Linked DNA regions of Homo sapiens: all the other regions are reported to be linked to region 2. The links are microRNA targets in miRTarBase. Many come from high-throughput screens and were not tested one by one. Region 2 holds a microRNA gene; each other region holds the end of a gene's coding sequence.

The links. Region 2 holds the annotated microRNA hsa-miR-4719 (UCACAAAUCUAUAAUAUGCAGG, at 2,471-2,492, shown strand). A microRNA usually pairs through its seed, bases 2 to 8, with sites in the 3' UTR of a target mRNA and lowers its output. Matches are read on the target gene's strand: a 7mer-m8 pairs with bases 2 to 8, a 7mer-A1 pairs with bases 2 to 7 and ends in A, and an 8mer does both.
Region 1: the mRNA of SMG8 is a reported target of hsa-miR-4719. Seed matches in the 3' UTR shown: 7mer-m8 at 1,406-1,412.
Region 3: miRTarBase lists ZPR1 as a target of hsa-miR-4719. Seed matches in the 3' UTR shown: 7mer-A1 at 3,135-3,141.
Region 4: the mRNA of GNAI1 is a reported target of hsa-miR-4719. Seed matches in the 3' UTR shown: 7mer-m8 at 4,875-4,881, 7mer-m8 at 3,612-3,618 and 7mer-A1 at 3,522-3,528.

The regions. Positions count from the first base shown.
Region 1 is chr17:59,213,649-59,220,785 of GRCh38, forward strand. It overlaps SMG8 (SMG8 nonsense mediated mRNA decay factor), which reads left to right. Exons shown (of 4, transcript NM_018149.7): 4 at 1,157-1,582. The coding sequence ends at 1,354. GDPD1 (glycerophosphodiester phosphodiesterase domain containing 1) reads left to right here and starts at 6,863. Exons shown (of 10, transcript NM_182569.4): 1 at 6,863-7,103. The coding sequence starts at 6,962. RefSeq lists an enhancer at 6,889-7,137.
Region 2 is chr16:76,866,518-76,873,671 of GRCh38, forward strand. MIR4719 (microRNA 4719) reads left to right here and starts at 2,419; the gene lies at 2,419-2,502.
Region 3 is chr11:116,773,112-116,780,143 of GRCh38, forward strand. It overlaps ZPR1 (ZPR1 zinc finger), which reads right to left. Exons shown (of 14, transcript NM_003904.5): 13 at 6,661-6,726; 14 at 688-5,948. The coding sequence ends at 5,814. BUD13-DT (BUD13 divergent transcript) reads left to right here and starts at 360. Exons shown (of 2, transcript NR_186226.1): 1 at 360-400; 2 at 799-1,094. RefSeq lists a silencer at 15-214 and enhancers at 335-424, 1,788-1,957.
Region 4 is chr7:80,216,781-80,223,905 of GRCh38, reverse strand. GNAI1 (G protein subunit alpha i1) reads right to left here. Exons shown (of 8, transcript NM_002069.6): 8 at 1-6,603. The coding sequence ends at 6,413. Among named protein-coding and RNA genes, the nearest start is that of GNAI1, 86 kb to the right of the region's middle.

The DNA of each region.
Region 1 (7,137 bases), not on the chromosome of region 2:
TGTTTGTTTTGATTGATTTTAAAAAGTACAAGTTAGCCTCAAAACTAATTATTTCAGGCTGAGGGCAGTGGCTCATGCTTGTAATCCCAGAACTTTGGGAGGCCAAGGTGGGAGGATTGCTTGAGCCCAGGAGTTTAAGACCAGCCTGAGCAACATAGTGAGACTTGTATCTCTACAAAAAATTAAATTAAAAAACGAATTATTTAATTAAACAGGTCTTAAATTTAAATACCTTCCATACCTAATATTCTGTTTTTTAAAAAATACATTGTGGGTATTTTAATCCGTTCATGCTATCAATTCACATCATTTCATTCAAAGGCAGAACTTGAAGTTAAAATTCTGGAGAAAAGGCCGGGTACAGTGAGTCACGCCTGTATTTCCAGCACTTTGGGAGGCCAAGGCAGGCGGATCACCTGAAGTCAGGAGTTCGAGACAAGCCTGGGCAACATGGCGAAACCCCGTCTCTACTAAAAATACAAAAAATTAGCCAGGCGTGGTGGAAGGCGCCTGTAATCCCAGCTACTTGGGAGGCTGAGGCAGGAGAATCACTTGAATCAACCTGTAAGCGGAGGTTGCAGTGAGCCGAGATCGCGCCATTGCACTCCAGCCTGGGTGACTAAGAAAGACTCCATTCCCCCTGCAAAAAAAAAAGTTCTGGGGAAAAGCAGAATAATATTTGAGACTAAATAATATACTATTGGATACAATTAGAGTTAGGAGTGTACCCATATCTGCTTAATCTTATATATTCTTTTATTTATTTATTTGTTTGTTTTTTTGAGACAGTCTCGCTCTGTTGCACAGGCTGGAGGGCAGTGGTGCAATCTCAGCTCACTGCACCTCCGCCTCCTGGGTTCAAGCTGTTCTCCTGCCCCAGCCTCCCCAGTAACAGATTACAGGCACACGCCACCACACCTGACTAATTTTTTGTATTTTTAGTAGACATGGGGTTTCTCCATGTTGGCCAGGCTGGTCTCGAACTCCTGACCTCGTGATTCACCTGCCTCAGCCTCCCAAAGTGCTGGAATTACAGGCGTGAGCCACCAGGTCTGGCCTTGTATGTTCTTTGAACCTATCGTCTGTTTAGGCATTTATCTTTCAGTTGTTTCATATTGAGAAATGTGAAAATAATTATACTACCTGTGTTTTTCAGGTTCAGCCAGGCCCACCACCATGTCCGGTATTCTACCCAGAAAAACAAGAAATCACCCTTCCACCTGATGGCCTTTGGGTTTTGAGATTTCCTTATGCATATGTGACTGAGAGAGGACCTTGTTTCCCCCCTAAGGAAAATGTGCAGTTAATGAGCTACAAGGTGCTCCGTGGGGTTCTTAAGGCAGTAACACAATAAGTGTTTTCCAGCCAGTTCAATCCTATACTTGAGCTGGTTTTTGTTTTTGGTATTTGTGGCTGTGTTTTTGGTATGTGTTTACTGTGTTTTCCCAAATCCAAAATGTGTTTTGGTTACAGGAGTTCAGTATTTGGAAACTAATTTGTTCTACTTTTTCATTATATTGTTGATATTTATTGTAAACGTGACTACAACTTTCTAATAAAGATTGGTTGTTCTAGAAAAGAATATAAAATACATGGATGATACCTGTTTTTTCTCGTTTCTGTTTTACTCTCCATAATTAAACATGTTTCTATTATAACTGAATGTTGCATAACCATGTTGAGCCAAAATTTTGTTTTTGTTAAAATAATGTTTTAGCTGGTTTTTTTTTTTTTTTTTTTTTTTTTTTTTTTTTTTTTGAGACAGAGTTTCACTCTTGTTGCCCAGGCTGCAGTGGAATGGTGCAATCACGGCTCACCGTGGACTTCGCCTCCCAGGTTCAAGCCATTCTCCTGCCTCAGCCTCCCAAATAGCTGGGATTATAGGCATGCGCCTCCACGCCTGGCTAATTTTGTACTTTTAGTAGAGACGGTTTCTCCACCTTGGCCAGGCTGGTCTCGAACTCCTGACCTCAGGAGGTGATCCGCCCACCTTGTCCTCCCAAAGTGCTGGGATTACAGGCATGAACTACCAAGCCCAGCCTAGCTGGGATTTTTTTTAAGATACTAGTCTTGAAATTATCTTCTAAACAAGTTGATACATTAGGTTATCTGGTAATAATATGAAGATACTTGATTTAATTCCAAAAAAAGCACAATTGGTTGACTCACAATTCTGGTACTTTAGTTAAACGGTTTTGTTCTTATCTTGGCCTGATGAGATACCATAATTTAAACGAATATTATCTAAACTAAACTTTTTAATCCAGTATATTAATGCGAACTATTCTTTTTTTTTTTTTTTTGAGACGGAGTCTCACTCTGTCACCCAGGCTGGAGTGCAGTGGCGGGATCTTGGCTCATTGCAGCCTCCGCCTCCTGGGTTCAAGTGATTCTCCTGCCTCAGCCTCCTGAGTAGCCGGGATTATGGGCACGTGCCATGACGCCTAGCTAATTTTTGTATTTTTAGTAGAGGTGGGATTTTGCCAAGTTGCCCAGGCTGGTCTTGAACTCCTGACCTCAGGTGATCCACCTGCCTTGGCCTCCCAAAGTCTTGGGATTACAGGCGTGAGCCACCTTGCCTGGTCAATGCAGACTATTCTTTAAAAATTCCTGTACTGTGAAACAATTTGCTAAGTGATCCAAATCTTATCAATCAGGCTGGGCACAATGGCTCATGCCTTTAATTGCAGCACTTTAGGAGGTTTAGGTGGCAGGAGGATCCCTTAAGACCAGCCTGGAAGACATAGTGAGACCTTGTCTCTACAAAGAAAAAAAAAAAAGATAAAGATGTGGTGGTGCATGCCTGTAGTCCCAGCTACTCAGGAGGCTGAGGTGGGAGGATGGCTTGACCCCAGTGGGTCTAGGCTGCAGTGAGCTGTGATCATACCACCCCAACAGAGCAAGACCCTGTCTAAAAAAAAAAAGATCTTGGGCCAGGTGCAGTGGCCCATGCCTGTAATCCCAGCACTTTGGGAGGCCGAGGCAGGTGGATCATGAGGTCAAGGGATCGAGACCATCCTGGCCAACATGGTGAAACCGCATCTCTACTAAAAATACAAAACCTAGCTGGGTGTAGTGGCACACCCCTGTAGTCCCAGCTACTCGGGAGGCTGAGGCAGGAGAATCACTTGAATCCGGGAGGCGGAAGTTGCAGTGAGCCAAGATTGCGCCACTGCATTCCAGCCTGGTGACAGAGTGAGGCTTCGTCTCAAAAAAAAAAAAAAAAAAAAAAAAAAATTCTTACCAATCTATGGTAACTTTCACCAGCATCCACATGACAATATGCCACTATATCACCATCTAATTTTTATCACCATCTAGTTGTTATCACCAATCAGATGGCAATATAGTGGTATATTGTGATATATCACCAATTAGGTAAGTACAAATTAAGTTAACATACCTAAACTCTTGTGTAATTGATTACATTTCCATAGACACACTAATTTTGAAACGTTGGACAAATAGAATTGTAGATTTTAGTCTCAATATATAGGAAATATGTATTTAACACATCTTGCTACATTTAAAGCCATTGTTTTTTAATTTAAAAATATACATAGGCTGGGTGCGGTGGCTTACACCTGTAATCCTAGCACTTTGGGAGGCCGAGGCAGGAGATCGAGACCAGCCTGACCAACATAGTGAAACCCCGTCTCTACTAAAAATACAAAAATTAGCCAGGCCTGGTGGCGTGCTCCTGTGATCCCAGCTACTTGGGAGGCTGAGGCAGGAGAATCACTTGGACCCAGGAGGCAGAGGTTGCAGTGAGCCAAGATTGCGCCACTGCACTCCAGCCTGGGTAACAGAGTGAGACTCCATCTCAAAAAAAAAAAAAAAAAGTAAATGCTCCTCTTTCTTCTCTCGCCTTCATTAAAAGAAAATTATATAAAATAATAAAAGAATTCAGAACTCTGACTTTGAATTCATACTTTTCCTGTTGTTCTGTCTTCTTAGAAAATATAAGAATGAACCTGTAATCCCAGGACTTTGGGAGGCCAAGGTGGGCAGATCACTTGAGGTCAGGAGTTCAAGACCAGTCTGGCCAACATGGTGAAACCCCATCTCTACTAAAAGTACAAAATTAGCCGGGCCCAGTGACTCATGCCTGTAATCCCAGCACTTTGGGAGGCCGAGGCAGGTGGATCATCTGAGGTCGGGAGTTCGAGACCAGCCTGACCAACATGGCGAAACCCTGTCTCTACTATTAGCCGGGCCAGGTGATGCATGCCTGTAATCCCAGCTACTCGGGAGGCTGAGGCAGAAGAATCGCTGGAACCCGGGAGGCAGAGGTTGTGGTGAGCTGAAATCGTGCCATTGCACTCCAGCCTAGACAACAAGAGCGAAACTCCTTTTCAAAAAGAAAAGAAAAGAAAAGAAAAATATACACACACACAATATTAGCCAGGCGCGGTGGTGCGCATCTGTAGCCCCAGCTACTCAGGAGGCTGAGGCAGGAGAATCACTTGAACCCCCGGGGAGGCAGAGGATGCAGTGAGCCGAGATGGCACTGCTGAACTCCAGCCTGGACCACAGAGTGAGACTCTGTCTAAAAAAAAAAAAAAAGCGGTTAGAATTTGAGGTTTATATATAATCTAAAATTTACGGGTGGGAAGGGGTAGGGGGTACTTCCAGAAGAACAAATGACTTCTTAGAAGCTGGGGAGAAAGCACTTTTTGGAAAAAGAAATGATTTTTTGGAAACATAAATGTGTCCTTAGGAGAATACCCATGAGATGTCATACTTTTGTGACAATGTCTCTCATCTCTGACAGGATTAGAATTGTTCCCAGGGAGGAGATTTATGACAGTTAAGTTCTTCTGGGAGCCTTTGATTTTAGGTTGATAAGGGATTCCAGGAACTTAAATGCCTTCAGCTCAATATATATATATTTTTTAAGAGACAGAGTCTTGCTCTGTCGCCCAGGCTGGGGTGCCGTGGCATGATCTTGGCTCACTGCAAGCTCCGCCTCCCAGGTTCAAGCCATTCTCCTGCCTCAGCCTCCCTAGTAGCTGGGACTACAGGCATGCACCACTATGCCTGGCTTATTTTTGTATTTTTAGTAGATACGGGGTTTCACCATGATGGCCAGGCTAGTCTCGAACTCCCGACCTCAGGTGATCTGCCTGTCTCAGCCTCCCAAAGTGCTGGGATTACAGGCGTGAGCCACCATGCCCAGCCTCAAAATAATTTTTATGCCACAGTGGTTTATTCTAGACGCTTCCATAGTCATCAGGTGATATTTTGAAAAATAGAACTATGTGCGTCAGTTGATCTACAGGAAATAGTTTAACAGCCCTAAACAGAACACATGATTTTTTAACCTGTAAGTTTCCTCAGAATGTTGCTCTGTTGCCCAGGCTGGAGTGCAGTGGCACCATCAAGGCTCACTTCAACCTCGACTAAAGGAATTTTTTTTTTTTTTTTTTTTTTTTTTTTTTTTTTTTTTTTTGAGACGGAGTCTCGCTCTGTCACCCAGGCTGGAGTGCAGTGGCGCCTTCTCGGCTCATTGCAACCTCTGCCTCCCGGGTCCAAGAGATTCTCCTGCCTCGGCCTCCTGAGTAGCTGGGATCACAGGCACACGCCACCACCCCTGGCAAATTTTTGTATTTTTAGTAGAGATGGAATTTCGCCATGTTGGCCAGGCTCCTGACTTCAAATGATCTGCCCGCCTCAGCCTCCCAAAGTGCTGGGATTACAGGCTTGAGCCACCGTGCCCAGCCACCCCCTATTTTCTTCTAATTTTCTTTTTATAGTTGAGATAGGGTCTTGCTCTGTCGCCCAGGCTGGGGTGCAGTGGTGCAGTCATAGCTCACTGCAGCCTCGATTTTCCAGGCTCAAGCAATACTCCCACTTCAGCCTCCCAAGTAGCGTGACTACAGGTGCACGCCACCACGCCGGGCTTATTTTGTTTTATTTTTTGTAGAGATGGGGTTTCGCCATGTTGCCCAGGCTGGTCTCGAACTCCCGGGCTCAAGCGATCCACCCTTCCTTCCCGGCCTCCCTAAGTGCTGGGATTACAGGCGTGGGCCACCGCGCCCGGCTGAATCAGGATTTTAAATATTCACTCTGCTTTTCTAGTCCTGTGGGAGATATGGTCTTCTCCGTAAAATTTCTCCCTCAGTCCTGGGTGATTTATTTCTTTTGCATTGAAGTGTGTGGCTTTTCGTGTGTTAGCAGTTTGTAATTTGTCGGGTAAAAGGAAAACTAGTAGGGCCTTCTGGAACTTAGTTATCTGTCTTTCTAGGACTTTTAGGTAATACCTTATAACCTTAACAAAGTTTCCTTATTTTATACGGACTTGTAAGTCAACAAATACTTCTACAGTGCCTATTGTGTACAAAGAATGAGGATTGCACTTTCACAATGAAATGAGGGAGGACAGGGGCCGATCTCTCAGATATTTGACTGATAAACCAGTACCTTTTCTAGTATATGCGACCATAGGGGAAATTCTCTCTAGGCTAGATAAACGGAGGAGTTTATTTAGTGTTTTAGCAAGCTTTATCGCCTCCATAGGTACAAATTATTTGCATTTTCTAGAGCAAGGGATAAGACGCGCCCTGGAATCTTTCCTTTTTGATGTGGATTTTCCAATTAGGAAAGGCTGCCCGTGAATAGTCTTTTCTGCTTGAGTGATGGCCAACACACTGGCAGGTTTGCAAGCTTTCTCTTCATGAGGGTCCGTCCACAGAGCTAGGTGACAAACGCTCAGTCCAGGATCTCTGCAGGTTCCTACACGGGAGCCGGAGAGCGCCTGCGCGTCGGAGCCTCTTTGTTGCTGGGGCGCTGGGGTCCAGCTGCGCGTGCGCAGTAGGCCGGCACCGACAAGTGCGCTGCACCAGTGGCACCGGCTGGGGGCGAGCCGACCTCGAGCAGCCGCCGCCGCCGCCGTCGTTGCTACTGCCGCAGCGGAGTTCAGAGGGCCCGGAGGTGGGAGACTTCCCACACGGTGACTGAGATGTCGTCCACTGCGGCTTTTTACCTTCTCTCTACGCTAGGAGGATACTTGGTGACCTCATTCTTGTTGCTTAAATACCCGACCTTGCTGCACCAGAGAAAGAAGCAGCGATTCCTCAGTAAACACATCTCTCACCGCGGAGGTGAGAGGGGTCCCCAGAACCCGATGACGGAGGT
Region 2 (7,154 bases):
TGCTATAGTATCAATATTGACTTATCAGGAAAATATTATAGTGCATATTGTAGATCTCTGAAATAGAATCATTGCTATTATAGTATCCTCTTCATGTAATTCCTGCATATCTTTTTATTTACCAGGACTGTTAGTGATATTAACCACAAGTTATTGCTTTTAGTAAAATATTTCTTGGCAGATCTTGGTGTCTAAATGAGATGACTGGGTTTTTTTTATTGTTGTGTTCTTCCCCTAACTATAATAATTAGCTATAAAATTATCTCAGACATATAGTTGGTTAATAAAAACCTAGGAAATAAAGATTAGACCAAATTAAAATTTTGTTTGGAGCTCGAGCAGAGTCCATAAATCTAAGTTGGCAAAAACAAATGAAAGTATTTTATATTTCACTTGGAATTTTAGGAAAGAGCACTAGGAGAAAATGCATATTTTTTTTTCATCACTTGCAGGGAATAACCAGAGAAGGAAAACTCTGCAATCCCATTGATATCTTGGTACCCTTGCCAATTGACTGGGCTACACACACCTTATATAATGAGTCTTAGAGACAATCAGAAAAGTATTCCCACATAAATCAAGAAAATGGATAGCATCAAAGCATAATGTTGTTGTCATTACTGGAAGTCCAGGGCCAAAGTTACATGTAAATTGGCAAACAAGACAAAATCAATGCAAGTGACTTGCAGGTTTGAGTCTGAAAACCTGGCTGAGAGAGAAAGCTGAATATCCCACGTGGATGAGGGTGGCCTCAGATGGAAATGAGTGGTTTTAATTTAAGCAGCTTGCTGTTGACAGAAGGGACTATCTGCCATGCTCATCACTTATTAGCAGTGCTGATGGCTTCACACTTGAAGAAAGTAGAGAGTTAAATTTATTCAGGTCATCTGTAGGCAACAAATATGGAGACAAAGTGGCAAGGGCTGTTTTTCCCAAATGTTAATGTGCATAAAAATATTAAAACAAGCAGGAATTTTACACTATCCCACATACAAGGCTCTGTTTTGAGTAATATACTCAAGTCAAAATACATAATATTATTTTAAAATTTAAAAAAATCACTTGACGTGTTGGCAAAACAATGAAACTTAAAGGACATGGGCTCTGGTGCCAGATGATCTAAAGTTTGAGTTTGCCCTGGCCCTGAGTTAGCTGTATAAACAGGATATGCTACTTAACTTTGATAGCTTTAGTTTTCATCGTGTGGAAAATGGAGAGGATGCCCATCTCACTGTGTTTTTATGAAGGTTAAATGTGGTTATAGATTTAAAATATGTTGCATGCCTTGCACGATACTGGCTTCCCATCAAGAGTTTTGAGTATATTACAGGTATTTTCCCCTCTTCTTCCCTGCTATCATTCTCAGTTGTCTTTTGGTGGAAGGTAGCAGATTGGATTAAAAGATTGCTTTTTTTTCTTTTCTAGAGTTCAACTAGGCCCTTTAATGTTGGAGGAACCAGGGATATTCTGTGGACATAATTCTGGACAGCAGAACCTAGTTTTCTCCATGCAGAGGAGAATCATGCTGTCCTCAGAGGGTTTATTCTTAAGCAGTTCTCACTGACATGAGAGACAGTGACCCAGTGTGTTGGCATGGAGGGATGGGCAGGAGTGCACCTTGCAGTAGGCAAGTTCTCCTCTAGTACATGGAGCTGCCTCCACGTCACACACTCTGGCAGCAGAAGTTTTGGTGCTGTGAAATCTGTGTTCTCTAGGGATGACTGAAGTTGTCATCCCAAAGAGATTTGAAGGGAATATACTCTCTCTAGATACAAATAACACATATCCTATGTGACAGTCTGTCTTCTTGTTGCTTGATTTTATCCTGATGTTCAGTTGACATTACTGCTTTATATAGAAATGGTTAAGTGACTTTTTTTCTTGTTTACTTTTTTATTTTTTATCACCTGAGCAGACATACATACAAACACACTTACATGTTTATATTATATTATATATTTACAACCCAAGGTTAAAAATGATAGAGCTGCGGTGCTTATAAACAATTTAGTAAACCTGAAATTGTTACTAATACAATTTAAGCAGTTTAGTTAACTTTTTAAAAATTACCAGCACTTGTAAACAAATGTTTCTTAAAAATGTGTAAGAACTAATACTCCTGCATACAAATTTTAGTTGATTTCTCTCCTTAGTTTTAATGGAATAATAATGTTTTATTGTCATTATCTGATGGACATGATTACTGCAGATATTTTATCATGTTGGCATTATGATTTAGTAGAATTTTACCGTTTAATTCTTAAATATACACAGAAACACTGCTCAGAGTCCTCTGGGCAATAATATCTGGTACAGATGCATGAGGGAAAAAGAGCAAAGCTATTACTGTTAGGAGTGTCTGGTCACTTAAATCTTTCACACATCAGTGGAAGAATAGATTTCTTAGTGCTGAAAAGCACAATGATGACTTGTATGTTATAGATTTGTGATTACATTAAAACTTAAAATTTCACAAATCTATAATATGCAGGTCATCACTGTGAAAACTATACGTTTGCAAAAGCCTTAAATTATATAAATCTTTATGCATTTAGTAAAACGTTATTTCCTTTTATGTTGAACTTTGTCATGACCTGTTCTAGAATATTACATGGTATTGACTTTTGAAATGGCAGCAAAGGAACAAGTTTCTTAAATATCTATTTGATTGATTTACATTCATGCAGATGCATTAAGTCTTTCACTGGTTGATGTTCTTCTTTCCAAGTGGATTACAATCAGATTGAAGACCAACTTTCCAGATTCTGCCAAATCCCACTTCTCACTCACATTTCCAAGATTGTCTCAGGAACATTCTTCAACAAACATGACAACATCAAGTCTTTCAAGTAGTGATTTTTCTTTTTATGAATGTAGGCATTACTCTGTGAAAATGAATTACATTAATGATAAAATGCAAGAAACTAACAGCAAAACATCTGATATAAGACAAGATAAAATGTGACACATTTATTGAATATTAAATAGTTACTTAGGTTTAAATATTTAAAACTATGTAGATATATGGCAATCTCAAATACATCCAGAATATGAAGGGGAAATTGAGTTTAATGCATATACCTATATTTTCTTAATATTTCTGTAAATGTAACACTAGCTATTTTGTGTAGAGTTGTAGCCAAGTCAAGAAACCAGTCTTAGTCTATAATGGTTTGAGACCTTGACGAGTAAATTAATACCTTTTGGTTTTATTGATGACAATACTGATGTCTGGGATAGGAACTTTGAAAGTCATTTCTTCTAAGTAGCAAAGCTGCTTGTTGAATTGCATTTTCCATTATCTTTGCTGAGGGGTTCCATAGTCACCTCTGCATCAACATCTCCATTCAACTTGTCATTTTCCCTTCAGTCCTTAGGCTGATTCTAATTTCTATTGATTAATAAGTGGCATTACATCTTGCCTGTTCAGCCAGTCTCAGCCTCATGTCCTCCTCACATTCCATATCCATTCTTTTTCTCCACTTTCTACATTTGACTGATTGCCAAGACCTATACATTTTAATTCTATAATAACTGCCCAATCTATTTCTTCTCCACTACTGCTGCAACTACTTGAGTTTGAGTCTCCATCGCTTCTTATTTGGATTACTCTAATGAATATATAACAGATCTCCCCACCTCCAGTCCTGTTTTCCTCCAACTTTTCTTCATAGGGTTGTTACCATATTCTTGGAAAATAAAAATCAAGTCGAGTTACCCATCTTCCACTGCTGCCCACTTCTTGTTAAAGGCCTTGACTGGCTTCTCTTAGATTAAAAAAAAATCAAGATAAGAATTGAACTGAACACTGAGAACACATGGACACAGGGAGGGGAACAACACATATTGGAGCCTGTTGGAGGCACCAGGGGAGGAAGAGCATCAGGATAAATAGCTAATGCATGCGGAGTGTAATACCTAGGTGATGGGTTGATAGGTGCAGCAAACCACCGTGGCACAGGTTTACCTATGAAACAAACCTGCATGTCCTGCACATGTATCCCACAACATAAAATTAAATTAAAATTCGTATTAGAATTGAACTATTAAATTTTGACTGAAAGAGAAAAGGGTAGATGCATCTCATTTTCTTCACCTACAAAATGCTATGATCTAATTTGATTAAGGACTCATCAGTCTCCCCAAATTCTACCATCATAGATGAAATTCCTGTGCCTGCTTTTCCTGGCACCAGTGTATCCTGTGCCTCTACCACCATATACTGTCTATCTCTTAGACACCCAGCTTATAATAGAGAAGACAGAAACCAAAAGAATTGTTGATTCTTAGGATAACTTGGGGCATGCCTAAGTATGCCCTAAGAGCATACTTTCAACACTGAGTCGAGAAGAATTACTGAGTCTTAGGATAATTTTATGAAACAAATAATGCCCAGGGATATCATGCTCTTGCTTAAAGTCCTTGACTGGCTTCTCTTAGATTAAACAAAAAATCAAGATAAAATAAGAATTGAACTGAACAAGGAGAACACATTGACACAGGGAGGGGAGCAACACACATTGGAGCCTGTTGGGGGTGCAAGGGGAGGAAAAACATCAGGATAAATAGCTAATGCATGCGGGGTGTAATACCTAGGTGATCTGGGATAGGCTAGTTGATAATATCTTCTGAGATAGGATGGCCCTATCTTAAGACAGAGTGCAAAATAATTATTGAGTCTTAGGGTAATTTTGTGAAGCTAATAATGCCCAGGGACACCATAGGATGTCCTGTCTCAAGGATGAGTCCAGAGCATCCACGAAGGTTTTATATATGACCTCTGAGCAAGTTAGAACATTGCCAGTGTCTTTTCCATTCAGCCATATCACATCATAACAGCTCAAATGTGGCAATACATGATTGGCGTTATAAAAGAGGTGATAAGAAGGCTTTTGATGCTTGTCTTTTGAAAGTATTTATATTCTTGACATTTCAGATTTTCTTGACATTTCAGACTGTACATACAACACTATCAAGTCAAGCGAGGTTCTCTATCCATTCCAACTTGTGTGTCCATGTGATTCAAATCAACTCAAATCTCTGCTTGCACAGCACATAGCAGATAAGAATCTACAATTTAAGGGGTTACCTTGCATTTAAGGAAAGGAAAAAGACAGAAAAACCTGTTCAGCTAGACAGAAGGCAATATTGACATCAGACTGGAGCCATTAGCACTTTGATAATGAAAATTCTGACATAATCATGTTCAATATGTTGTCAGCATATCTTCTCATTTTTAAAAGATAGTCATCAAAGTGAATAAATTTCTTAAGAATTCATAGGGAGTAAACATAAACTATGCAGATGCTCCATGTAGGTCAGAGTTTCTCAACCTTGGCACTGTTGACCTTTGGGGTAGGATAGCTCTTTATTGTAAGGGGACTGTCCCATGCATTGTAGAATGTTGAGCAAAATCCCTGGCCTCTAGCACCTTCCCCCAGTCCAACAGCTCAAATTGTCTCCAGCTATTGCCCAATGTTCCCTTGGAGTGGGGTGGCAAAATTGCTCCTCATTGAGAACTAATGCAAATGAAAGACATGGTCATTTTTAGATTCATGACACATTATTGGGTTATTTTTCAGTGGTGAAGAAGAAATGCATGTTGATTCTTTTCCTATAGCATTAGTGTTCTTTATATGTCTATGGAAAAAAGAGACAAAGAAATAATTTATAAAGAGTGGTATTCTGAACTTCGTGAATAAATGCTTTTTATTGTATCTTTTAGGAGGAATATTTCAATAGCAAGGTTTTTCCCCCCTCTATGTTCTGCCTTTCATGGTAATCAAAGGAAAGTATAATATAAAGATATTAACTGAATATCAAGGGCTAACGATATAAAAGTATAAATAGAAATAGAAAATGAATTTTCCCCGAGGCAAAGAGAGATGAGAGACAGAGGACAAAGCAGGACAGAAAAAACAGATCTCTTCTGCTCTATTTTATTAATTCATTTAATTAAGCAATTATACTTCTTGCTATGGACCAGGACATTTTTACTTTATTTTTTGTTGTTATATCATGTAATCTTCATAATTCAATTAACTAGGTGCTATTAATATTTCTATTTTGCAGTCGTGGAAACTGAGGCATACCGAGGTTAAATGACTTGGCACAAAAGCACACAGCTAGTAATTGACAGGGCCAGGTCATGCCTGATGCTACTTTCAGCTCCTGTATTTAAACCCCCTACTCCAGTCCATTTGTGCTTCCTGTCTGCTTAAGTAGGACTCTCTGGGATGCAGGCTATAAAACAGCTTTGCTGCACGAATTTGAAATGGGTTCTTGGTGTCTGTTCTTATAGCACTGGGAAGGAAGTAAGACCAGGAAAGGGAGAAAGTGAGCTGTGATGCATTTGCAATAAAAACCTCAGCTAATCCTATTAGGAGATCTACAGTGGGGAATGGGAGGGTTCTGAGTTTTCCCACCTTGAGTTTGGGGATGAATCTATCAAATCATAGACTAGTTGCTGAATGCATGCTGTTTCCAGAAGGGGATGCTACGTTAAACATGGCAGTACTTTTCAGCCAAGGGCTGTGCTCAGTTGAGAGCCATCAACTGGGAGGTCAGGTTCAATGAAACTGTGCTCTCCAACTTTGCCCTGGTCAGTGAATGAATAGAAAGGCATAACATTTGTACAGTGTACTGGGGAAATAGAAACAGCTGGTGGTTGCCAGGAAAAAAATGACCATGACTTCTAACCACTGTAGGTCCTACCTGGTCTTACAAAGACTGTAGTGAATCAAAGCAGTGCCGTGCTATCACCATTATCCACATACGGCCATGTCAGGGCAGATTTGTCGGGGGGCACTGCAGTAAGGAACTCTCTGTGCCTAGGTCCCTGGATAAGGCACCTCCTTCTTCTGATTGAAAGTTTCCATCCACAGCTTAGAAGCTGGATCCCGGCTGCAAAGTTCCCAGAAATCTCTTTTCCTTTTATAGGTTCCATTCCTCATTTGTATTTGTCAGTCCAGGCGGCTGGGGCAGTGGCCTGAAGGACCTTGGCAAAAATATCAATCACCGACCTAGATTTCCACTGCAAGAATGTGAGGGAAATCAGTCAGAATTGGCAATATCTCACAATTTCACTGATTTTTCCCCAGAGTTAGTTTGAACCAAGTGCTGCTGGACGGTGCTGCCCCTCTTTAGTGTGGACT
Region 3 (7,032 bases), not on the chromosome of region 2:
GACGCGCTCGCAGGCTAGCCAGGGACGTGCGCACCTTCGGGGCGCTCCACAGCCCTGGGACGACGCCACCAGGTTTCTTCTCTTCATTCACTCACCCACCCACCCACCCATCCATCCAACCGCAGCAAGCGCTGTTCTATGAGGCCACAACCTGACCCAAAGGACCCCGCCCCCATCGGCCGCCTAAACTCCAGAGCACGAGCAAGAAAGTGGAGGGCCACGGGCTGCAGCGTAGCCGAGTTTGAATACTGGTTCCATAGCTGGCTAGCTGTACGACCTCGGGCAAGTTATCACAAAACAGGGAGAATCCCGGCACCTAACTCGGAACGGTCACAGGCTGAGATGATATTACTGTGTGAAGTGCGCAGAGCGGTGTTGGGCACATGGTCATCGGAACTATGTTCGTTATTTTTATAAGTATCTTTAAGTGGGGGGAATCTGCTCCACTAGGCTTCCAGGTACCTACCGTCCAAGAAAGGAAGCCAGGAAGTGCAAACCAACATAATTACTATGAAAAACGTAGTTTCTAAGACCTGTGTAACTCTTCTAGTGTTCTATTACAAGTAGCCCCCAGTTATCTCTTGAAGGAAACTGTAAAACAATCTTGCCAATGAGAAGGACGGACCTGGATCATTTTTTAGCATAGTAAAAGAGAGAAACCAGAGAGAATGAATTCTAACACTCAAGTTTTGGGGGGAAAGAAAAGACTTTATTCTTTGCAGGGGGTTTAGAGCTTTACCTGAATTATCTCATTTAACCCTCACAATTCTCAAATCGTTTCATTATCATATTTTACAGATAAGAACTGAAGCGTGGCAAGATTAAGGAAGTTGCTCAACTTCACATAGTCAGAACATGACTCTAGGGAGTAGAGGCTAGCGAAGTGGGGTGCAAGAGGTCATCCAAATTTCTTGAAATACCAGATCTTTTTACCTCATCATATATGTTAGATTGTCAGTTTTATCGTTTTCTTCCCAGCTTTATTATTTGACAAAAAATTATATATATTCAAGGTGTACAATGTGATGACTGGATATAATTATACATTGTGTAATGATTACCAAAATCAAATTAAGTAAAACATCCTTCACTAATTTATGTAGTAGTTCGGTGGGGGGGCACTTAAGCAAATTTGTCTTAGCAAACTTCAAGTAAACAATACAGAATTATTAGCTATAGTCAACATGTTGTACATTAGATTCCCAGAACTTGTCTTAAAACTGAAAACTTGTACCATTTGAGAGAGAAGTTTTAGTGTTACTGAAATCACAGACTTCTGACAGAATTTGCAGGATGCTATACACAACTACACAAAAGTGCAAACAATAGTTTCTTGGACCAAGAGTCAAAAAGGTCACTTTTTTAATATATTAGTCAAGCAGACAGGGCTATACTTTATAAATAAATACACATTATCTGGGGATAAGTGTTTAAAAAATTCTTTACTCATATAATACAAAACAGGCTTGGGGATCAGTCTTGAAGCATGAATTTTTACCCAGTGGGCCATGTTGAGGGGGTTGCAGCACAGGCCCAGAAAGGAAAGCAGGCTGGGGCTCTGAGGGCTTGTGAGACGAGGACGCTGGGCTGAGAAGATAGGGCTTCACTAGGCGGAGGGCCCCAGGGTACCCCATACACAAGCCTGCCTTGGCTTCTCGTCCAATTTGGTGCATCTCACACTACACAGCCCTGCCCCACCCTGGTGTCAGCAGGCATTCAGAAAGCCTCACACTTCTGCTCCAGTGAACACTGCCAGGATAGCCCTCTGAACTTCCACCCACCCATCTTCTGCCCATTTGTTTTCTTTGTCTTCAATTCCACTGCTACCCATCCTACCCCAGTCCCTTAGCCTGACAAGGCCCAAGTGTCTCCACCCTGTGCTGCAGGGCAGTTAAGCAGGATCAGATGCCGTGCCAATGGCCTGCTCTGAGCTTTGGCCTCTCTCTGCAGTTGTATCTAATAGAACAAATACAGTAATTGTGGAGCTGAGCTTAAAATATTCAGACCTCAGGTTTCAGAGTCTGACTGGCATGGGTTTGACACCTGCCTCTTAGAAGCTCTACTTCTGGCCAGGCACGGTGGCTCACGCCTGTAATCCCTGCACTTTGGGAGGCCAAGGCAGGTGGATCACGAGGTCAGGGGTTTGAGACCAGCCTGACCAACATGGTGAAACCCCATCTCTACTAAAAATACAAAAATTAGCTGGGTGCAGTGGTGGGCGTCTGTAATCCCAGCTACTCAGGAGGCTGAGGCAGGAGAATTGCTTGAACCCAGGAGGCAAGGCTGCAGTGAGCCAAGATCGCACCACTGCACTCCATCCTGGGTGACAGAGCAAGACTGTCTCCAAAAAAAAAAAAAAAAAAAAAATTAGCCAGGCATGGTGGCGTGCACCTGTAGTCCCAGCTACTCAGAAGGCTGAGGCAAGAGAATCGCTTGAACCTGGGAGGCAGAGGTTGTGGTGAGCCAAGATCACGCCACTGCACTCCAGTCTGGGCAACAGAGTGAGACTCCGTCTCAAAAAAAAAAAAAAAAAAAAAAAAAAAAAAAAAAAGCTCTGCTTCCTTCTGGAAGTAACCTCTCTGAGGCTGTTTTGTCACCTGTAAAATGGGGATAATTTTGTTTATCCTAATTATCCCCATTTTACAGACTAGGAAAACAAGCATTGGAAGTGCCAATACTAAACTGAGGTGAACGCACAAAATAAGCAGCTTTTTCTCTCCACAGTTGGAAACACTGCCATTTGCCTTAAAAAGAAGTGTGTAAAAAACATTTTTTAATAGGAATAAAGCCAAGTAGTCTTAGCCACCACTGCCCTAAATGTAAGCAGAGACACCATTTTCTGCAGTGTGCATCAGGCACATACCACAGGTGTACAAAGAAGGAAATATACTGATGTTAGAATGAAAGTGTTGCCATCATTAAAGTTTTCAGTTGGCCAAGTCAACTGCCCTTCATACTTGCTCCCAACACTCACCTCCCCTCCTCCACTCATCATGACACAGATGTACATTCAGTACCTACCTGTATGTTCGTCCACACGTCTAATGACCGAACATGGCTGCATTTCACATACTTGACCCATGAAAGTAGGAGGCGTGCCCTCATGCATGAACCACTTTCCTTTTTTAACACAATCACAAACCTTTTCCACTTAAATGTTACTCATGGCTGTGAAACTGAATCCACATGTTCCTGGCACTTTGACTCACCTACCCTGGCCTTAAAGCGAGACCCTTTCCCTATCTTTTTACCTATAGATGTTATCCCTAGTGTCCTAATAGGGTTTAATCTATGATGGAGGATTTTAACAGATTTTATTAACCATGTGTCATATGCTGGGTGCTGTGGAGCAAGACTCAGTTAACTATATGTAAGCTCCCATCCTGACACACTTTATGAAATGAGAAAGGAGCTGAAAGATAATTCAAGAGAAGGGTATGAAACTGAAGAATGCCTTGTCATCAAAGGGCAGGAAGTACCTTAGCTGGGTTATCCCAGTCTGGCACCTGGTCCTCAGTCTTCAAGTTCAGAAACTCAGGTCATCATTTCCTAGGAACTGGGTGGATTCTGGGAGATTGCCTCACACCAACCAAACTCACAAGAGATTCAGTAATAAGCCAGAGTGCCATTTTTTTTCCTTCACAATGGAAAATGAACCTGATACTGCAGTTTATCTTAACAGAGCACACCTACACTATGGGGAAGTCTACTTAAGAGACCAAATGATAGATCAGAGGGTTGTCTGGTAAACTTAGATTCCCAAGTCAGCTGGAAACATACCTAGAGATAATCTCTTAGGGTAGAATAGTTGCCTGTGAGAAGTTTGCCCAAAGTACTGAAGCTTTATAGTTTGAATGAGTCATTTGCTAACCTGAGTCTCCAAACACCTTACTCTCGCCCTCACTTACAGAAATTAGAGATACAGGTATGGAAGTTAGTCCCACATGATAGTAAGATGCCAAAGAATCTGATATGGAGAGATGTCTGAAAGCAGAACTCTCAGAAACAAATTTAGTAAGAGGGGAGGAGGCAAAGTGTCCAAATAAGAAATATTCAAAGTGAAGGGAAAACCAAGGGTACAGTATCTCGAGAGCCAAAAGAAGGGTTAAGAAGAGATGGTCCACTATCAAATGTGACAGAAATAGATAACACTTTCCAAGTGGAAAATCACTTGTGACCTTTGAGAGTAGTTTAACAGAGCAACGAGAGTAGATGTCTGATTGCTAAATCATCTCTAACTCATTCTTCAGAGTTAAGTTTGCAACACAGCCGGACGCGGTAGCTCACGCCTGTAATCCTAGCACTTTGGGAGGCCAAGGCTGGCGGATTGCCTGAGCTCAGGAGTTCGAGACCAGCCTGGGCAACACGGTGAAACCCCGTCTCTACTAAAATACAAAAGAAATTAGCTGGGTGTGGCGGCGTGCGCCTGTAGTCCCCGCTACTCGGGAGGCTGAGGCAGAATTGCTTAAACCCGGGAGGCAAAGGTTGCAATAAGCCAAGATCACACCACTGCACTCCAGCCTGGGCAACAGCGCGAGACTCTGTCTCTACCAAAAAAAAAAAAAAAAAAAGTTTGCAACACAAAGCAATAAGGTTTGTGATAACATCTTAATCAATGAACTGGTCTTTATTGAACAAATACCCTGCAGTCTGCACCACAGGAGTCACCTTTTGTTTATGAGAGGCAGGAGACTACAGTGCAAAGAACACTGGCTGGGAAGTCCAGGGCCCAAGCAGCAGAGTGTTCACTGGTCCTTAACTTTCAGAAGAACTGCAGAGAGCCTCCTTTCTCTCTGGATGAATGTGTTTCAACATTTCTAACTGAGAGTAGGGCTAACTGATCAGGTACCCCCACTGGCTCTAACCTCACAGCTCTAGCATTTGCAGTTCCCTCTGCCAGGAAATCTCTTCCCCCAGATACCCACACAGCTCACTCCCTGACCTCCTCCTCAGCTTTGCCCAAATGTCAAATTATCACCTTCTTGTTCAGAAGATCTTCCCTACTCCCCATTTCCTTGCACAACCCAGCCCCATTCCCTGCTTTACATTCCTCCATGACACTAATCACCATCTGATGTACTGTTTTCCTGATCTGTTTATTGTCATTTTTCCCCACTAGACTTCAAGTTCCATGAAAGAGATTTATTTTGTCCTCTGTTCTGTGGTGTGCTTGGCATAAAGTAGATAAGCAAGCATCTGCTGAAGGAATGAATTAAATGCCAGCTGCAATCCCCAAATTACAGTAGATACACGGGAAAATTTTCTTTAGGAGGCTGAATTCTAACAGCATGATATCAAACAAGGATAGGGTCAATACAGAGGCCAGTGCTGTTTGAAAGTCATCATTTCAATGGTAACTCCTTCACTTGTGCTGGACTCGGTCTCCCCTCAGGAGACTCCTTTCCTGTTCAAAGTCAGTATTTTATATACTCAAAACCAACAACAAACTCCAGGTGTAACTTTATTCCACCTTCTCCAACTTCAGAGTTCCAACCTTAGAGGATAGAGCATTATGTGGAAGGAGGGTGAGGACTTGATATGAAAAAAGTGATGACATACCCCTGGTTCATTTCTGGGTTTCCTCCTAGGCCAATTCAAAACTTCCAAAATAAGGTCAAGTAACACAATAGGCTCACACTTGCATCACAAGCTGTTTAGAAAGTGTGCACAGATCTCTGACTCAGACCAGATGTCCTCCCCACCATGGGCAAGGGCTGGTGGGAAAGACACTCCCAGCCTTCGCCTTCATCCAATACTAATAAATAACCTACAGAAAGAGCAGCGCTGGAGGCTGGCCCTTGAGCCACCCACTGCTACCGTTGCGGAGCCAGGCCTGCCTCATAGCCCTCTGTCTTCATGTCATTGAGCCCTAGCTCCTCATTTTGGTCAAAGGTGCGCTTGTAACGCTCCACCTTCATCTCAGGATCATCTTCAGGCGCATACACATTCTGCAAGGTCAAGGAGAGACAATCAGTGCCGCTGTGCCACTCCCCCTCTCTGCAGGCAGCTTCCAATTCCCACCTTCCCAAGAACAGAATGAGTTTTGGGTTTTTTTCTTTTTATTGGCCTCCAATTTCCCATGGCTAGACTGAACTAGTGGGTAGCAACAGAGCCCACATGGGCCAGGGGTAGAAGACCCCAGCCCCAGAATCAGGGAACAATCCACCTATTTTGTTATATCTGCACCTTCTTATGAAAAGTATGACAAATGGTCTTAATCTTGGAAAGAACTTAGAAGAGTTTTGCCTGACCCATGGTAAGTATCCAATAAATGGTAAAGGTACATCAATCACCAGACTCTCTCCTCAGTCAACTTAAAGCCTATCAGTTTCCTATCTTGGCCTCCGGACAAGGTACCATTTCTCCTCAATCCATAATCAGATTTGCAAAATGAAAACTCCAGAACTGGGACAAGAGCTTGACTACAGAAAAAAAAGGGGCCTCAGAGTATCCTTTTTTTTTCCTTCTTTACATACACTTAAAAAAAAAATCCCCTCCCACACCCCCCTCTTTTCTCCCTTATGTATCTTCTAACTTCTGCCTCCTTGGTAAAAAGCAGTCCATTTAGAATCAAGTCTTTCAGTTTCTAGGGAAATGATACATATTCAAGGAAGATCAGAAAATGTATCTCTATGAAACATCAGGGAAGGTCTACTATACCTGCAAGTAACTGTTTCCTGCTGGATCATCCATAATAAAGTGGGCCTTCATGTTACCTTCGATGATCTAAAGGAGAGAGAGAACACAGCAAGTAAATTTTACATAACCCCTGGTAAAAAGAGGCTATGTCGGGGGAGGGGGGAGGGATAGCATTAGGAGATATACCTAATGTAAATGACTAGTTAATGGGTACAGCACACCAACATGGCACATGTATACATATGTAACAAACCTGCACGTTGTGCACATGTACCCTAGAACTTAAGTATAATAAATATATATATAAATAAAAAAAGAAATGAAATAAATGAAAGTAAAGAAAAATTTTTAAAAAAAGAGGCTATGCCTGCCAGACAAGAACCAACCCAATTT
Region 4 (7,125 bases), not on the chromosome of region 2:
ACAAGATTCCTTTCGAAGAAGAAGATTCATAGTTAAAATTTGTAACTTACTATGTTAAGAAATTCAAGAATGGTTAAATGGTTTAAACGTATGCTCAAGTCTGCAAAAAAGTTATATTTATTACAGGTAAATTGCCTTGTGAAGTAGATTGCTAGGACAATTGGTCACTTAAAACGGAAAGGTAATTACTTATATTTGTAAACAGGAAAACATGTTATACTAAAATTGAATGCTGCAAAGTGAGTCCTATACAAACCATATTAATGAATTTGCTGCTGGGATAGTCCGCATTCCACAAGCTACAAAATTGATACCTCAGTACTATTTAATAGAAATTAAAGATAGAGCTGTTTAGAAGTAGCTTTGACTTAACTTTACTCTTGATTTTCAAAAGTGAAGGAAGGATCAAAGCTAAAACTCTGTGAAGTTTCCACAGAACATAATTAAAATTCAAGAGTGCACAACAGAAAATCCAAGGTAATATCCAATCTTCACAGTGGTTTATTTTGAAGACTAGCTTTACACTGAAATTGTACAAACATTTGTCAACTTAGTAAAAAATAACTGCAAAATTGTATGTCTAATTTAGCAAAAACAAAAAATCCTGGTAAAATAGAGAATACACAGATAGTGTGTTTGCACAGGAATAAAATTAATTATAAGAATCCCTCCATAGACACTGCAGTTGGAAAAGGAATTTCTGTGGCCCTTAGGCTCTCAAGAGTCCTACTCTATGTACAGATGGTCCCCAACGTATGATGGTCCAACTTAACAATTTTTCAACTTTACATTGGTGCGAAACTGGTATGCATTCAGTTAGAAACCATATTTCAAGTACCCATGCAATCAATCTGTTTTTCATTTTCAGTACAGTATCCAAGAAAATTACATGAGATATCCTTTATTGTAAAATAGGCTTTATGCTATCTTGTCCAACTGTATGCTAATCTAAGTGTTCTGAGCACCTTTAAGTTAGGCCAGGCTAAGCTACATTTGGTAGGTTAGGTGTATTAAATGCATTTTCAAAATAAGGTATTATCAACTTACAGTGGGCTTTTCAGGACTTAACCCACGGTAAGTCAAGGAGCACCTGTACTTTCTTCTAGGTGACAACTTCTTTTACTAAAAGTGGCACTCTTATCTGCTAAAATAGTCTCTGTCTAGTATTCTATGCATGTTTCCTCAAATTATCTCATTTTTAATCAATTAAAAATATTTTGGCCAGGTGCGGTGGCTCACACCTGTAATCCCAGCACTTTGGGCGGCCGAGGTGGGCGGATTACCTGAGGTCAGGAGTTCGAGACCAGCCCGACCGACATGGAGAAACCCCGTCTCTACTAAAAATACAAGATTAGTTGGGTGTAGTGTCGCATGCCTGTAATCCCAGCTACTCGGGAACCTGAGGCAGGAGAATTGCTTGTACCCGGGAGGCGGATGTTGCGGTGAGCCGAGATCGCACCATTGCGCTCCAGCCTGGGAAACAAGAACGAAACTCTGTCTCAGGAAAAAAAAAAAAAAAAAAATTAAATTTGAAGAACTAGCTCCTTCAATGACAGTGTTTCCATCCACTTTACGGATGGAGACCTAGGAAGACGGGCAGTAAAATCAAAGAAGCTGGAAATATTTGACCTTATACACAATACTCAGGAAGATTTATTACATGGTGGGACTATTCCAGTTGAGGCCTAATCAGCTCTGGCTTGGACAATTGCAGCTGATTCCTGTCTGTGCATATTTGGGTGTCTCTGGCCTCTGGACTTGATGAAATGTGAAATTTCGTAACTTTTAAAGTAACTACAAAATCCAACTAAATAAGAGAAATCACAACAGACACCAAAGCAAACAGTAATTGGTTTAAAAAAATGCCTGGGAAACAGGCCAGTGGGATTGTGAAACGTAAACTTCTTTATATAAATGCATTTCAACTGTTAAGAAAGGGTTTTGAAAAGAACTAAAAAAGAAAACTGGCTGGGCGCAGTGGCTCACGTCTGTAATCCCAGCACTTTGGGAGGCCGAGGCGGTCAGATCACAAGGTCAGGTGATCAAGACCATCCTGGCCAACATGGTGAAACCCCCCTTTACTAAAAATACAAAAATTAGCTGGGTGTAGTGGCGCATGCCTGTAATCCCAGCTACTCGGGAGGCTGAGGCAGGACAATTGCTTGAACCATGGAGTTGGAGGTTGCAGAGAGTGGAGATTGCACGACTGCACTCCAGCCTGGTGAAGGAGCAAGACTCCATACCAAAAAAAAAAAAAAAAAAAAAAAAAGAAAATTTCCAACCTAACATTAAAATATAAACTCTCTCATACTATTGGTTACATTAAAACGACAGAAGTGTCCTCAAGTTGATTAGAGATTGCATTTTCTCATTTTCCAGTATCAATATGTGAGACACTTAGTTTTCATTATGAAAACGAATTATGAGAGTTTTGTTTTTGAGGCATTTCATTCAAAGCACGTATCAACAACCATTTGTTAAGCACTGATTATGATTTTAAAGGCACCTTAAAACTATTATTTATAATCAAATAACAGCAAATTGTATTGACGGCTTATACATTCCACACTCCCCTCTAGGTACTTAACATGTACTGTGAACTTATTTAATGCTGACAACAACCATTAAAATTAATGGATTATTTAATCCTTATTTATTTTCAGATGATATAAATGGAGGCAGAGCAAAACTAAATTATTTGCCCAGATTTTCCCAGTTAATAAGAAATTGAGCCAGGATTTGAAGCCAGACGGGGTGCCAGAGCCTAGGATTTTCACCATCACTTTCTACTTCCAACATAACACACTAAGCAATGATGATGCTACCATCTGTAATAATGATTACAGTATCAACTAAATTCATTTACATAAGGTGGTTCTGCAAACGGCAAATGATGTAAAAAATGGTAACTGTGCTCTTAAGTAGCTTCACATCTAAGGAGTAAAAAATAGCTCTGATGAAAGACATTAATAAGTATCTCCTTTTTTAAATCTGAAAAACTATTATGGCTCAGAGGAACTCAAGGGCAGAGTGGGGATAGGCGAAACACTACTTACACATTTTCTGGAAATAAGGTAGCATCTTTGGGGTCCTCTGACAGACATGGAGTCAGAAGCTCTAGGTTTAAAACCTTCATCTGGTCTTGCTCAAGTTAATTAACCTCTTTAAGCCTTTTTTGATCTCTAGTTACTGTCAGTATTCAATGAGAACATATGGATTTTAATCAGTACTTTTTCAGTAACAAACTGAATTCGATTAAACTAGATTAGGCATAAAAAAGTAGACTTTTAGAAGGTTACTGAAATGAAGAGAATTTTAGAAACCACAAGCGCCTTAGGGACTTTAAGAATGGCAACTGGGACAATGATTGGCTCACTCGTCCAATGCTGGAGGACTCGGATTGGTCAGGTCTAAGCCTAGAGACGGAGAAGTAAGAAATGCGATTGGCAGCTCTATCAGAATCATGTAGTTCCCAGAAGGGCACCCTGAAGAACAGATGCCAGAGGAGTCTAAAAGAGGTATCACAAACAAATTTAAAAGTGCCAAATTTAAAAGTGCCAATACATTTTACACACCATTTTAAAAGTGCTAATAAAAATAACATTGACAGACACAAATGAACACTTCCCACATTGTAGGCACTGCTCTAAGCATATCACATGTAGTAAGTAATACAGTACTTGGAGGAAAGCCCAGGTTATGCACAGGACACTATTTGGATACAGTGTAGAAAGGAACAGGCCTCAGGTGATGAAGAGCATTAAATGGCAGGCTAACTTATACTTAATTTTATTGACAAATCAGAGCCAATGCAGATCAAGGAATAGAAGGTGATAGGGCCACAGTTCTACATTAGGATAACTAACCTGGGTTTTTCGAGAAGAGAGAAATGGGAGGTGGGGAATTTAACTAATAATGCCATTTTAAGAGGAAGTTTAGCAAAGACTTGAATAGGTAGTAGTAGGAATAGAAAGGAAAACAAACAAAAAACAGATTTAAGGCTTTGTAGAACTGTCAGTAAATTGAAATGGAGATTAGGAATCAGAAGAGTTCCACCTAATGCATGCAGGGCTTAAAACTTAGATGACAGGTTGATAGGTGCAGCAAACCACCATGGCACATGTATACATATGTAACCAACCTGCATGTTCAGCACACGTATCCCAGAACTTAAACTAAAAAGTTCCCCATTGAAGGAATAAATGATGATGGTACTTAGTAAGGAAAAATGGCAAAGTCAGGGTGAGAACTGGTGTAAGGAGAGAATGATGATGAATTTAGTTTTGAATATAATGAGTTAAAAAGCAGGCAATGCATTCTCAGAAGGGGATATCAAGAAGGCAATTCCAAATGTGGCATCACATCTCATAGCTTGGAACAGGGAAAATCTGAGCTTCTGGAGTAGCTGAAATTGTAAAAAGAGCATAGAAAAAGAAGAAATGAAGAAACAACAGACTGATACTTAAATTCTAATCCAAAATGTACTTAGCCAATAGGTTTGTAAAATTTTAAAAATTTAAATTTATTAGGATTTATTAACACAATTACACAGAATAAAGTTCAGGATTTCATTAATGATGGTCACCAATATGTGCTTCTTTGTGGCTTTTTAACCCATAATTCTCATGATTCAAATTTATTCATATTATAGTTGAATTTCATACACAGCTTCACAATGTGGATATTACAGGTCCACCAGTAAAATTAATGAAAACATATCTTTCATGAAAGGCACATAAAGAATCTAAACTAACACATTTAAGGAACTTTGATAACTTTGAATTTCTTTACATTACAAAGAAGAAAATCCTCCAAATGAAACAGATATGAATATAGTTTATGGTTACACACACACACACACACACACACACACACACAAATATACTTCAACCCAGTGACAACACGTAACTTGGAAACTACTTACCAGCAACGTGTACTGAAAGACTAACCTTTTCCAAGATGAGTAAAAAAAGGAGGGTGGGGTGGGGAGTGCTGTTTACTTTGCTGAAACAAGGTCAGAGATGACACATCATGAATAATCAAAAGAAAATTATTCTATCAAAGCTCAGTATCTAGCTGATACATAACACTTATTTGAGCACACATATAATCACTGACTTATTAAACACTATTACTCATTTTCTAAGTGTAATCGTCCATTTCATTCTCAGAAATAATAGTATAATTGAAAAAGAAATGATATAATCTCAAGCAAGTGGAGAAATTTGAATTATCTAAGGGAAAAAAGTAATTTTAACATAGTGTGATAATTACATTTGAAATTAGTTATATGTATAAATTTAAATCTTGCATTATATCAGCAATAGAGTATTCAAAGATCCTTCTTGTTATCTTCCCAACAAGGAGCTATCATGTATGCTAGGTACAAGAGACTCCTCAAGGGAAATAAAAGCCTCACCAATCAATGTCTCAAAATTCATTATGTCCACAGGTTTTTTTTTTACCCACAAAAATGCTCTTAGGATCCCTCCAAACTTAGTTATAAACAAAAATGTAGTTATTTAAAGTGAATAAAAATTAAGATGACATCACCTTTGAGGCAATGCATTCATATCAGCCAAATATTAAAATTCAGAGTGAAAACAAGTGAATAAAAACTAAGTGTGTACAATAAGTCTAAGACAGTATATCCTCAGAAATCTGAAATTTTAGTTTTTCAAACCAAATCTAACGTGGAATCTAATGTAAAATTAAATTATTTTATTTTCTTAAAGTAGGAAAAATCAAAATGCATACAATGTTTAAATAGTTGATCCAAAGGCAGGTGTATTCATCTTAAGAACATTTCAATAAAACACATAAAATTTAAAGAACAAATCATGTTATTAAAATAGTCTGTGCAATGTTTGTACAAATAACATTTTTATTAATACAAGTATACATATAATCTAGATAAGGGCTGTAATGTTTCCTAATATTAATTACTGTACTTAAAAATTTACAGGACATGAACATAAATAAAGCTGTTTAAAACTGGCAAACGTAGTAATAGTCTGTCATTCAGTACAAGGTATATTTATGTTATTTCCAAAGCCATCACCCTAAAATCCTAAGTTGCCACTCTTAAAACCTAAAAATAATGTCGAAAACTAAAGTCATAAATACATGTATACATACATTTGCATATTTACACTTATGCAGAAATCATCAATATACTAGAGCCCAGCTTTAACACTGTCCTTCAGTTTCACACTGCAGGACCATCTGTCACATTTAAGAAAGGTCCTTCTGTTACTTTCAGTTAAAAAAACAAAACAGAACAACTTTGGTCAAGTCCCAGATGCATTTGCCTTATATTACATTCTGTGTTGCTGCAAGACTCTAGTCTACAGAGATCCATATATAAGTACTCATTTGGTTTGAAAATGCATTTTACCATGAACTGCAAAACTTAAAAGAGACCACAATCTTTTAGATTATTTTTTATGATGACATCTGTTACAGCATCAAAAACAAACTGCACATTCTTAGTATCTGTGGCACATGTGAAGTGGGTGTATATTTCCTTTGTGTCCTTTCTTTTATTGAGGTCTTCAAACTGACATTGAATATATGCAGCTGCCTCTTCATATGTGTTTGATCCTGAGATGGAAAAAGGAAAGAAACATAAATGCAAAAAGTTAAAATAACTGCTTAAAATACTGAATTCAGTTTCATACATATGAAACTGAAGTCAGTTTCATACAGTTTCATTCATGGACTCCTTAACTGTGCTTTCCCTTCTAGAATGGGAGACACTATTTCTTCTAAATGAAAAACACTCCATGTTAATTACCTTTAATGACTAAGTTATCCCTTAAACAAAAAATTTCCTTTACATGGCATTCCGTGTTCATCATGATCTTTGTTCCTGCCTCAATCCTCAAATGCCAGATCTTTTATCCTCTTATCCTCTGTCCTCTACACCCCAGCTCAGATGCTTGACGACGGCATGCTATTTCAGTTCTGGCCCAATGGTGGATCAAAAAATGTTGGCTGAATGCTGATCAGTATTTTTTCCTCCCTTTTCTATATATACATTAATTTGCATTCTTCACTCATTTTTCTTTATTCAAAAATTGTACCAAGGTCTACAATGATGTTTAGGAGTATGAGGTTACAAAA